Regions from separate parts of the Homo sapiens genome. Here all the other regions are linked to region 2. Evidence: fine-mapped expression QTL. A gene starts in region 2. Each other region holds a variant in brackets. All regions are shown on one strand. Distances are from middle to middle.

Region 1 (4,239 bases), 29 kb after region 2:
ACTTTACAACCTTGCGAAGTGGGTCCAGGAGATTTGGAGTTTGTGGTAAAGCCAGTAATGGGCATTGTCCTGCATTCCCTTCCCTTCATGGTTTGCCTCGATCCTCTCTAAGCTTCTATCCTGGCCTGAATAACTCAAAGATAATTGGTCTCAGAGATCAAGCCATATCCTCAGGCCTTATTTCCATCTTCTCATGATTCTGCCATCATACCTTTGCTTCTCCGCTAATGAAATGAGCTGGCAAGACCTCTGTTCATTGTGAAGTGCTTCTGAAAGAGCCTAAGAAAAAAGGCTCATCTGAAAGAAATGGAGAACTCTATTTCGAACCAAGCCTGTTTGAATGTGTGTTAGTCTGATCTTTGATCATGTGTTTCCATGTAATGGGAGTCTCGTTTTTTATAATGTTTCTAACGTTTTATTGAAAAACCTATGGCCCTCCTTCTTTCTCAATAGCTACTTTCTTACTGCTTTTTGAAAATAATATGCAACCAAATTATTTCTTAATGTCACATAATTAAGTAATAAAATGTCAAAAGAAATGTTGGCAAGGAGAATAAAAAAATTTCCAAGAAACTTAGCGTTATGCTCTCCCTGCTTTCTTTACCTCCGAAGTCTTATGGTTCTGAACTGCTGTCCTGAGAAAGCAACTCTCTTAGTTGTGATGTTATTTAAGTGTCAGCATTCAAGGGAATGAACAGCTGCTTGGTAGAGTTTGATTTTTCACATGTGCATGAAAGAAATGTCCTTGAGGATGAAGTCAGAAAAGGTTAAAAGTGTAAACGAAAATGTGCCTGAAGCAGCACTCAGTCCATGAGAGAGTTATTTTGCCAAGGCTAAGGATGTGCCCGGGAAAAAGAAACACCAGTCACAGGAGGACCTGTCCTGTGCTTTTCCCAAAGAGGGTTTGAGGAACTTCGGTATTTAAAGGGGAAAGAGCAAGCAGGAGCGGGGGATAAAAAGAGGGTAGACAGTGAGGCAAATGGTTACATTCTTGTGAGCTCTTATTATTGGTGCTCAGTGAATCTACATTTAGCACATGAAAACAAGGGAATGGAGGGAAAGTCAATGATGCATTTATCTCGTGCTCAGTAAATCTACATTTTACATAAGATAAAGCAACCGTGTGAAATTACAGCTATGTTTGGGAACAAAAGGAAGGCAGTTTTGGAGTGTCTCGGTTCCCAGGCTTAACTTTTCCTTTGGCATAGTGAGTAGAATGTCTAGAAGGAAGTGTTATCCAGGTACAGAACATCGCTCCCCTGACATACTGCAGACGTCTCTAGTGGCCCAGAATATTCGTGTTTCTTCTTGGACAGTGTCGTATAAATACCGTTTAATTTTCATCATCCAATGCCCTTTTAAAAATCAAATATGAGAAGTAGTTTACTCATGCCAGCTGTATCACACATCACACAGCCATTGAAACTAGAAATTTCTACTCATTAGTCTTTTTTTTTTTGAGACAGGGTCTTGTTCCACCACCCAAACTGGAGTGCAGTGGTGCAATCTCGGCCCACTGCAAACTCTGCCTCCAGGGTTCAAGCGATTCTTGTGTCTCAGCCTCCTGAGTAGCTGAGATTACCGGCATGTGCCACTATGCCCAGCTTATTCTGTATTTTTAGTAGAAATGGGCTTTTGCCATGTTGGCCAGGCTAAATTTCTTTTTTTTTTTTTTTTTCCAGACAGAGTCTCCCTCTGTCACCCAGGCTGGAGTGCGATGGCACGATCTCGGCTCACTGCAACCTCCGCCTCCTGGGTTCAAGCGATTCTACTGCCTCAGCCTCCCGAGTAGCTGGGATTACAGGCGTGTGCCACCATGCCCGGCTAATTTTTGGTGTTTTTAGTAGAGACAGGGTTTCACCACGTTGGTCAGGCTGGTCTCGAACTCCTGACCTCATGATCTGCCCTCCTTGGCCTCCCAAAGTGCTGGGATTACAGGCGTGAGCCACCGCGCCCAGCCTGGCCAGGCTAAATTTCTACTTATTAGTCTTATTCCATTTTTGTTTTCTTGAAAATATGCCATGATCTTCGGAAATTTGGGGAATACCCTAATTTTAACCAGGCAAAGCGAAGGCATTGAGGGCTGTTCCTCAGGAAAATGATTTAAGTAATCCAACACTCTAGTTGCTTTTCAGATATTTGTCCTTTTTGTTGAAACCGCCTTTGCAAAGATGATGACAGTGAGAGAAGTCTAGCATGGCTGACTCCATCTTCCTTCTAGCCTCACAGGCTGGCTGTCCTTGCTCGTTCCTGGGCACAGACCAAGCTAATCGTGGGAGGAATTTAGTTTAGAGTTTAACTTTAAAGAAAGGATGATAATAACCCCACCCTCAGACTAACCTCTGCCCTGCTAGGGAGTAAAGCCACCTTTGTAAAACTAATGGAAGGCTATGAGATTAGGATTATGGGAAGAACCCGAATTCTGCTAAATGTAGGCGTAGTTTCTATAATCCCTTACTGCTCAGGAGTCATGTGGCTAGAAGTCAAAGATTTGTGACTTCCCCAATTGTTCCTGTAGAGAACATCACT[A/G]CTATAGCACCTAAGATTGGTCTTTTGAGATGTTTTTCAGACTTTTGCATTCTGGCAACCACTGGACCCCACCAGGACCTGTGACCATGAGTCAACTAGTCCTGTGGCCCTCACCCAAAGGGCATACTCAGTGCATAAAGACTGTTTTCCATACCCCTGTAATTTCATCCCCAATCAGCAACCCCCTTCCTTAGCCCCCAGCTCACCAAATTATCCATTAAAACCCTAGCCTCTGAGTTCTTGGAGAGACTGATTTGAGTAATAACATCCATGCTCCTGCTAGGACTGTTAATTGAACTCTTTCTCTACTGCAATAGTATGATCTCAGTGAATTGGTTTTGTCTGTGCAGTGAGCAAGAAGAACCCATCAGGTGATTGTCAGGCCTCTGAGCCCAAGCTAAGCCATCATATGCCCTGTGACCTGCACGTATACATCCAGATGGCCTGAAGCAACTGAAGATCCACAAAAGAAGAGAAAATAGCCAGTTCCTGCCTTAACTGATGACATTTCACCATTGTGATTTGTTCCTGCCCCACCCTAACTGATCAATTGACTTTGTGACAAGACACCCTCCCCACCCTTGCAATAATGTACTTTGTGATATTCCCCCGCCCTTGTGAATGTACTTTGTACGATACACCCTCCCCACCCTTGAGAAGGTACTTTGTAATATCCTCTCCGCCCTTGAGAATGTACTTTGTAAGATCCACTTCCTGCCTGCAAAAAATTGCTCCGAACTCCACCGTCTATCCCAAACCTATAAGAACTAATGATAATCCTACCACCCTTTGCTGACTCCTTTTTTGGACTCAGCCCACGTGCACCCAGGTGATTAAAAAGCTTTATTGCTCACATGAAGCCTATTTGGTGGTCTCTTCACACAGATGTGTGTGACAGTGATAACAGTGTCACGTGGTTTAACTACAATGTGTCCAGATATTGAATTTTGTTTAAGCCTGCTTGGGATTTGTTGTGCTCCCCAAATTTCAAGTTTGTGTCTTTTGTTCAATTTTGGAAAATAGTCAGCTATCTCAGAATTGCTCACCTACATTCTCTTGTGTCTTTTCTCCTGAACTTTAAGTATGCTGAAGGAGCTCAGAACACACTACCCCAAATATGCCACTTTGGTATAAGGACTATTTTGAGCTAAAGGCACTTACAAAACCAGCAGGGAAAAGAAATTCACTCTGACCCTCCCCATTTTCTTCCTGAAAACAAGAGATAAAATCTCCATTTGGAAGATGTCCTTCCAATATCAGGAGGAAAGTAACACTCTTATCAACAATCTAAATGTCCATCTAGGCATGAATGGATAAAGAAAATGTGGTATGTACACACAGTGGAATATTATTCATCCTTTAAAAAGAAGACAGACAGGCACAGTTGCTCACATCTGTAATCCCAGTTACTCGGGAGGCTGAGGAGTGCTTAAGCCCAGGAGTTTGAGACTAGCCTGGCCAACATAGCAAGACCTTGTCTCTAAAAAAAATGTTGTTTAAGGCTGGGCGTGGTGGCTCACGCCTATAATCCCAGCACTTTGGGAGGCCGAGGCAGGTGGATCACAAGGTCAGAAGTTCGAGACCAACCTGGCCAATATGGTGAAACCCTGTCTCTACTAAAAATACAAAAATTAGCTGGGCACGCACCTGTAGTCCCAGCTACTTGGAAGGCTGAGGCAGGAGAATTGCTTGAACCAGGAAGGTGGAGGT
Region 2 (4,239 bases):
CCAAACAAATCTATATTAATGATCTGTTTGTCACATACCAAATTACCTCAAAACTTAGTGGCATAAAGTGATAAACATTATTTCACAGTTTCTTTTTTTTGCGGGGGGGGACAGTCTCACTGTCACCCAGGCTGGAGTACAGTGGTGCGATCTGGGCTCACTGCAACCTCCATCTCCTGGGTTCAAGCAATTCTCCTGCCTCAGCCTCCCGAGTAGCTAGGATTACAGGCACCCGCCACCACGCCCAGCTAATTTTTATATTTTTAGTAGAGACGGAGTTTCACCATGTTGGTCAGGCTGGTCTCAAACTCCTGACCTCCAGTGATCTGCCCGCCTCGGCCTCCCAAAGTGCTGGGATTACAGATGTGAGACACCATGCCCGGCCTGCTTCACAGTTTCTATGGGTTAGGAATTTGGGGGTGGCTTAGCTGAGGCAGGAAGGTCCACTTCCACCATGGCTCACTCAGATGACTTGACAAGAAGCCTCAGTTCCTCTCTGGCTCTTGGTAGAAGCTCAGTTCCTCAACAAAGGGACTTTCTTTTTTCTTTTTTTTCAATTTTATTTACTTCTTTTTTGGAGACAGGGTCTCACTTTGTCATTTAGGCTGGAGTACAGTGGCGTGATCATAGTTCACTGCAGCCTCAAATTCCTGGGCTCAAGTAATCCTCCTACCTCAGCCTACCAAGTAGCTGGGACTAAAGATACATGCCCCCATGCCCGGCTAATTTATTTTTATTTGTTTGTAGAGATGGGGTCTCACTGTTGCCCAGGCTGGTCTCCAATTCCTGGGCTCAAGCAGTCCTCCTGCCTGACTCTCCAAGTGCTGAGATTTGTGTCCAGCCACAAAGGGACATTTTCATAGGGCTTCCTCAGGACATGACAATGGGCTTCCTATAGTGAGCAATTCAAGAGAGCAAGGAGAAACCCACAGTGTCTTTTGTGACCTAGTCTTGGAAGTCAACCACCAGCAATTCTGATTCTATTCATTAAACCAAGTGACCTCAGATGATCAGCCAGCCAACGTGCTGGGATGACAGGCGTGAACCACCATGTCTGGCAAGAAATTTTGTAATTCCTTTAAGTGTTATCCTTAAAAACAAGTGATTGATTATAAAAGTTGTATTTCTTCATCCTAAAATTGGTAAAAAATAAAAAAAAAATGTGTTTAGTTTCTACTATGCATTTAGTTTTTTTTTTTTTTTTTTTTTTTTTTTTTTTTTTTTTTTTTTTTTTTGAGACAAAGTTTTGCTCTTGTCACTCAGGCTAGAGTGCATTGGCACAATCTCGGCTCACTGCAACCTCTGCCTCCCAGGTTCAAGAGGTTCTCCTGTTCAGCCTCCCAAGTAGCTGGGATTACACCACCACGCCCGGCTAATTTTTGTATTTTTAGTAGAGACAGGGTTTCACCATGTTGGCCAGGCTGGTCTCAAACTTCTGACCTCAGGTGATCCACCCGCCTCAGCCCCCCAAACTGCTGGGATTACAAGCCTAAGCCACCATGCCCGGCCCTTTCATTTAGTTTCTACTATTCATGTACACATGTACCCTGTTTTACCCACAGACAACTGTGCTAACCGTTAAGAATGTCCCAGCCTTACTAAGATTTTCCTAAGTTTGTCTCCCAGACATTGGGAACTCAAAGGTGAAGAAACTTAGGTGTGAAGGTGGATTGTGGATTCAGACCTCCTTACTTGGAGGCCAGTGCAGAGACACACCAGCAGAGTAACCTCGGGTACATGGCTTCACCTCTCCAAGCCTCACACTCCTCATCAGTAAAGCGAGGATTAGTGGAACCTACCTGTTGGCTTGTTTTGATGATTAAATGAGATAATGTCCGCGAAAAATATTTAGCAGATAAATGTTCACTAAATTTTGAGCTTTAAAAAAATGTTTTACCAGCCAGGCGCGGTGGCTCACGCCTGTAATCCCAGCACTTTGGGAGGCTGAGGCCGGTGGATCACCTTAGGTCAGGAATTCGAGACTAGTCTGGCCAACATGGTGAAACCCTGTCCCTACCAAAAATACAAAAATTAGCCAGGTATGGTGGTGGACGCCTGTAATCCCAGCTACTTGAGAGGCTGAGGCAGGAGAATCGCTTGAACCCAGGAGGCGGAGTTGGCAGTGAGCGGATATCTCGCCGCCGCACTCCAGCCTGGGCAATAGAGTGAGACTACATCTCAAACAAACAAACAAACAAGCAAACAAAGTTTAACTGAAAAGTCTTTCCTGACACCTTTTCGCTACTGAAAATCTTACAGCCCCTCCCGGCCGCAGCCTACACTCCTTCGGCCCAAGCAGGTGCGCTGGAACCGGCAGTTGGTGAGAAGCCGGCTGCCGGCAGCCCCAACCCTTAGCGGCCCCGCGGTCAGGGACCTCCAGGCCCGATGGAGAGTCGGGGCGGGCTAGTGGATGCGCGGCGGGGACGGGAGGTGTCGCCGCTCCGGCTTGCCGGTGACAGGGGCGGGCGGGTCGTGCGCGGGCCCCACCTCCAGCGATCGCAGCCCAGCCCCAGCTCCTCCTCCTCCACGGCTTACCCGGGCTCCGACAGCGGCTGCAGGTCTCCAAGTTGCGGCCGCTGGAGCCCGAGCCATGCGGACCGCGGACCGGGAGGCGCGCCCGGGGCTTCCGTCCCTGCTGCTGCTGCTGCTGGCCGGGGCCGGGCTGTCAGCCGCCTCGCCCCCAGCAGCGCCGCGCTTCAACGTGAGCCTGGACTCGGTCCCCGAGCTGCGCTGGCTGCCCGTGCTGCGGCACTACGACTTGGACTTGGTGCGCGCCGCGATGGCGCAAGTCATCGGGTGAGCTGGGGCCCTGGACGGGGTCTGCGGGGACACCGGCCCTGCGGGTCGGAGTCAAACGCGCGCTGCTCAGAGTGCTTTAAACGGGGACGCTTTACTCCCCGCCACCCTTGGAGAACTGGTTTTGGCTGCCGCCCTGAGCAGCGTCCGGGTTGGGGAGAATCCAGCGCGGCAGGTTCGGCTTTCAAGTTCGGTGTCACCCGTGGCACGCCAGTCCTTGAGCCATTCCGGGTCAGCGTGGCGCGCGAGTTGTCGCCCGGGCTGCATAGCTACCAAGGAGGGGCAACCCGCGCCTTCCTTGCGGGCCTCGCGGGCCTTCCAAGCTTGCCCCTTTGGGACCAGCCTCACTCGCCCTCCCCATTCGGAGTTTTCTTACCCGCCGCCTTCCCCCCGCCCCCTTCCCCCCACTCCCGGGAGGCTGCAGATTGAGTGACGCCGCGCCTGGGCGGTCCACTGACTGGGGAGCAGTGGCCCTGAGACCTCACGCCCTAAGGATGTAGCCCCGCTCGCAGTGCACACGCAGTCGCACGCCGCCGACCTCTGAGCGGGTCAGACGCCCTTGTGCTTTTTGTTTCTAGGGACAGAGTCCCCAAGTGGGTGCACGTGTTAATCGGAAAAGTGGTCCTGGAGCTGGAGCGCTTCCTGCCCCAGCCCTTCACCGGCGAGATCCGCGGCATGTGTGACTTCATGAACCTCAGCCTGGCGGACTGCCTTCTGGTCAACCTGGCCTACGAGTCCTCCGTGTGAGTGCCCCAAGCCCGCGCGGAGTAACGCGGGGCTTGCGGGGGCCCCCGACACAGACTAGCGGGAGGAGACATATTTTCCGTGTGATAAAAACAGGGCGGTGCCTGCTTGCCTAGAAACCTCCAGCGCTTCCTCTTTGCCTCTCTGGGTAAATCTGAGCTGCACATCGTAGGCTTCGAGAGGGAAAGCAGATTCTCCGATTCAACACTAAACTTTCCCTCTACGTGTAGCCCCGGGTTTTCTCTTCCCCAATCCAGGTAGCGTACTTTTAAAATTCTGCTCAAAGGCCGGGCGCGTTGGCTCACACCTGTAATCCCAGCACTTTGGGAGGCCAAGGTGGGCAGATCACGAGGTTAGGAGTTCGAGATCAGCCTGGCCAACATAGTGAAACCCCGTCTCTACGAAAAACACAAAAAATTAGCCAGGCGTGGTGGTGGGCGCCTGTAATCCCAGCTACTTAGGAGGTTGAGGCAGGAGAATCACTTGAACCCGGGAGGCGGAGGTTGCAGCGAGCCGCGATCGCGCCACTGCACACCAGCCCTGGCGACAGTGCGAGACTCTGTCTCAAAAAAAAAAAAAAAAAAATTCTGCTCAAAACGTACTTTTCCAGGAAGTTTTTGAAACTAAGCCTCCTCTCATCTGGACCCTTTAGTTAACTCAGTGGCCTTCCAGCTCTATACTGGCAGTGGCTCATCTCTG
Region 3 (4,239 bases), 46 kb after region 2:
CCTGGCCAGGCGCAGTGGCTCACGCCTGTAATCCCAGCACTTTGGGAGGCCGAGGCAAGCGGATCACAAGGTCAGGAGATAGAGACCATCCTGGCTAACACAGCGAAACCCCGTCTCTACTAAAAATGCAAAAACAAAATTAACCGGGAGGCTGAGGGGGTGAGAATGGCGTGAACCCAGGAGGCGGAGCTCGCAGGGAGCCAAGATTGTGCCACTGCACTACTCCAGCCTGGGTGACAGAGAAAGACTCTGTCTCAAAAAAGAAAGAAAGAAAGAAAGAAAGGTGTGGCCTATGGAGACAGATGGCCTTGCTGTTCTGGCAAGGTAAGGACTGAAAAGATGAAGACATTAGAGGCATCAGGAAAGGCTTTGATCAATAGTGAGGATGAAAAAGGTGATTTTGAGAGGAAGTAAAGAGAAAACTGTAGTCTACCCTTGAGATAAATCTGGATGAGAAGACAAGAGAGGTTGGGTGACAGTTAGAGGAATATAGGAGGTCAAGGGAGGAGGAGGTGGCGGATGAATTGCTTTGAGAATGCAAAATAAGAGATTTCAGTATGTTTCTAGACTGAAAGGAAAAGGCAGTGGAAAGGTTGAAAACGGGAGACCTAGGGAATGACAAATGGAGGGAACTCTCAGGGGAGGAACATCTTGTGCACTTAGACTGGAGAGGTGGAGAGGATACTCTCACATGATTCATAGACAATTTGGCCCACCCGATTTAATACTCTGCCTGCATCTCCTATTACAGATTCTCTCTTCATTTTGTCAGCAAACAGCTCACTGTCCTCTGGATCTGCTGCGTCCTGCAGGAGCATTGCGCTTAAACTATGGGAAGCGGCACCTCCACCCAACATCATTTTGCTTTCCAGAATGCAGAGAGAGGTACGTGTTTCCCACTTTCCAAACCAGCTGTGGGTACCACAAAGCCCATATTGCATGGAGAGGGTTGGGGGTTCTGAGGGTAGAAGCAGAAAAACCCTTAAATTTCTCCTCAGGCCAGCTCTTAGAGGTCAGCTTCTCCTCCTTGTGACATGCCCACCAAAATGTCCAGTTGAAGTATATTTGACAGAATTAACATTCGCTCAGGAAGTTAGTGTTGTCCATTGGGGTTGATCCCAAACTACCCAGGTACAAATGAATGAAATAAGGTTGGGCAAAGAGGGGATGAAACACATTCCAGGCAGAGGGTAGAGCACGTCCAAAGGTCATGAGGTGGGAAGAAGGAAGCATGAGCTCCCTCTAGTGGCCAATCTAACAATTTTTTTTTTAAAACAATAGGCCAGGAGTTGTGGGTCACACCTGTAATCCCAGCACTTTAGAAGGCTGAGATGAGAGAATCTCACCTGGGCCCAGGAGTTTGAAACCAGCCTGGACGACAGATCAAGGATCCTATCTCTACAAAAAAAAAATTTTTTTTTTTTGAGGCGGAGTCTTGCTCTGTCGCCCAGGCTGGAGTGCAGTGGCACGATCTCTACTCACTGCAAACTCCTCTTCCTGGGTTCAAGCGATTCTCCTGCCTCAGCCTCCCGAGTAGCTGGGATTTCAGGCGCCCGCGACCACGCCTGGCTAATTTTTGTGTTTTTTGTAGACACTGGGTTTCACCATGTTGACCAGGCTTGTCTTGAACTCTCACTTCAGGTGATCCGCCTGCCTCGGCTTCCCAAAGTGCTGGGATTACAGGCGTGAGCCACCGTGCCCAACCTAAAAAATTTTTTTTTGTTTTTGAGACCGAGTTTCCCTCTGTGGCCCAGGCTGGATTGCAATGGCACAATCTCGGCTCACTGCAACCTCCGCCTCCTGGGTTCAAGCGATTCTCCTGCCTCAGCCTCCCAAGTAGCTGGGATTACAGGCGGGTGCCACCATGCCCGGCTAATTTTTTGAATTTTTAGTAGAGACGGGGCTTCACCATGTTGACCAGGCTGGTCTCGAACTCCTGACCTCAGGTGATCTGCCCGCCTCGGCCTCCCAAAGTGCTGGGATTACAGAAGTGAGCCACCATGCCCAGCAAAAAAAAAAAAAAAAAAA[T/AAAT]TAATTAGCTGGGTGTGGTGGCGAGCACCTCTGTAGTCCTAGACACTCAGGAGCCTGAGGTGGGAGGATTGCTTGAGCACAGGAGTTCAAGCCTACAGTGAGCTATGATCATGCCACTGCCCTCCAGCCTGGGTGACCGAGTGAAATCATTTCTAATATGGTAGGGATATCAACTGTGATATAAATTGCAAATATTTTTTCCCAGTTTGTCACTTGTTTGGACCAATTTTGGAATTAGCTTCAGCTCAGGGTTTCCTTATCTTGTGAATAACACGAATTCAACCCACACACGCCACAGGCTGAGACTTTCTATCTCACTGAGTTCTAGGTCAGCTCAGCTCCTGCTACCACAGGGGCCGGTAGGCAGAGATTTATTAGATCACGCAAGGTACAGAAACTTCCCCAGCTCCTGCCTTTTCACAGACAGTCCAGTTACCACTCCCTGCCATGCACAGAACCCAGGAACTCACTCTCATCCCCATACAGGTGTTAAACCCCAGCTCCTGAGACATGTGTCTGGTTGAGATTCCCCTGGGGCCTGCCTGACTTCAGTGCCTCTAACTGCCTTTGGCTATGGGTTCCGTCTTCATTTCTGGCACCCGGAGATCTCCCTTCAATGCTTTTGATTTCAACTATTGGTTAAAAAGAAATTTAGCTTATTTTATGCAGCTTTTCTTAATGTGTTGGAGTGTGAGGGAGTCCTACATCTGCTTAAGCATGCCATTTCTTATTGGAAGTCGATATTAGGCTCTCTATTTTCCTTAAAGGGATGTCATAATTCATTAAGTTTTTATTGCACCTTTTGGCAAGCTTATACTTCCATTACAGAAAGGTACTTCTTCCTAGAGGCATCATTTTTTTCCTTTAAATCAGTGTTGTATATAGAGACATAAATATTCTTGACAAAGATAATAAAAATAAGAGGGTAACCATCAAAAAAATTCTCTGTTCTATCTTTCTTAAATAATTTACCTATTCTCCCATACCCTACTGTGCATTGCCTTGGTTCACAATTTTCTCACAGTGTTGTTATATGTAGAGTTTTTACAGCCCAGGTGTATTTGTAACTTGTACCCTAATAATTTAGTTTACACATGGCCCAAGTAAGAGGGGCCTATACATTTTTGCATTGTGCTATTAAAAATACATGATGGGATAAAGGATATTAAAAGATCCTGCACTTCCCAGAGCCCATCTCAATTGAAAGCAAGCCAGCTCCCCACCACACCCTACCAGATAGTCAACCGGGAGGAAGAAAAAAAGAGGGAGAATGAAAGGTGTTGCCCACTTCTGCTGCCTGAGTAGCCAAAGCAAGACTGAGGATGTAATACGTATGTCTCATCATTGGCAGCACTGGCCATAGAATGCTCAGGGCAAGGTGTTAGCAGACAACATTGATGTCCATGATCTTCTTCAGTGGTCCTTAAACTTTAGCACAAGTATGAATTATGTATGGAGCTTGTTAAACCTTCAGATTCCTTCCTGGATTCCAGCGGTAGAGATTCTGATGTTACAGGTCCAGGGTGAGGTGTAGCAACCTGCATGTTTACCAGGAATCTCTAAAGAATCTGTAGCACCAGCCCTGGACCTTTCATTCACTATTCTCTTTTGTGTGTGAGTGTGTGTGTGTGTGTGTGTGTCAGAGTCTCTAGCCCAGGCTAAAGTGCAGTGGTACGATCTCGGCTCACTGCAACCTCTGCCTCCCAGGTTCAAATGATTCTCCTACCTCAGGCTCCCAAGTAGCTGGGATTACAGATGCCTGCCACCATGCCCAGCTAATTTTTGTATTTTTAGTAGAGATGAGGTTTCACCATATTGGCCAGGCTGGTCTTGAACTCCTCACCTCAGGTGATCCACCAGCCTCAGCCTCCCAAAGTGTTAGGATTATAGGTGTGAGCCACCACGCCCAGCCTCATTCACTATTCTGAACATGGTTTTACAGAAGTCAGTCAGTGGGGTTCAACCTCATCGCTTACTATTTAGTGAGTGCCTTTGAGAAATACTAGTAGTATGAATTTTTTTCATAGGAAATCAAATTTATCTTTGTTTAAGTTCCTCCCAGCTTCTCTTTTCCCATGTCACCATCATCTTTCCTCTTAGGGAAATCAGCAAGAATTCTATTATCTGTCTAATGCAAACGAAACATATTAAATCAATCTGTCTACTCTTTATGAGGTTGACCTGAGTCAGCCTGCAGGATTTCTAATCCAG

What was found. PIP is the estimated chance that this variant, and not a neighbour inherited with it, causes the effect.
Region 1: its variant is the best candidate, but not a certain one, in a credible set for the expression of NAAA in monocytes after interferon gamma (Fairfax 2014, PIP 0.60).
Region 3: its variant is the best candidate, but not a certain one, in a credible set for the expression of NAAA in monocytes after LPS (Fairfax 2014, PIP 0.63).

The regions. Positions count from the first base shown.
Region 1 is chr4:75,909,994-75,914,232 of GRCh38, reverse strand. NAAA (N-acylethanolamine acid amidase) reads left to right here. Exons shown (of 11, transcript NM_014435.4): 11 at 1-573. Among named protein-coding and RNA genes, the nearest start is that of PPEF2, 9.7 kb to the right of the region's middle. RefSeq lists an enhancer at 3,717-4,239. The variant A/G (reference allele first, on the strand shown) is at 2,530.
Region 2 is chr4:75,939,301-75,943,539 of GRCh38, reverse strand. It overlaps NAAA (N-acylethanolamine acid amidase), which reads left to right and starts at 2,527. Exons shown (of 11, transcript NM_014435.4): 1 at 2,527-2,796; 2 at 3,375-3,539. The coding sequence starts at 2,591. RefSeq lists silencers at 2,305-2,774, 3,175-3,244.
Region 3 is chr4:75,892,917-75,897,155 of GRCh38, reverse strand. It overlaps PPEF2 (protein phosphatase with EF-hand domain 2), which reads left to right. Exons shown (of 17, transcript NM_006239.3): 2 at 773-885. The coding sequence starts at 831. Among named protein-coding and RNA genes, the nearest start is that of PPEF2, 7.4 kb to the left of the region's middle. The variant T/AAAT (reference allele first, on the strand shown) is at 2,029.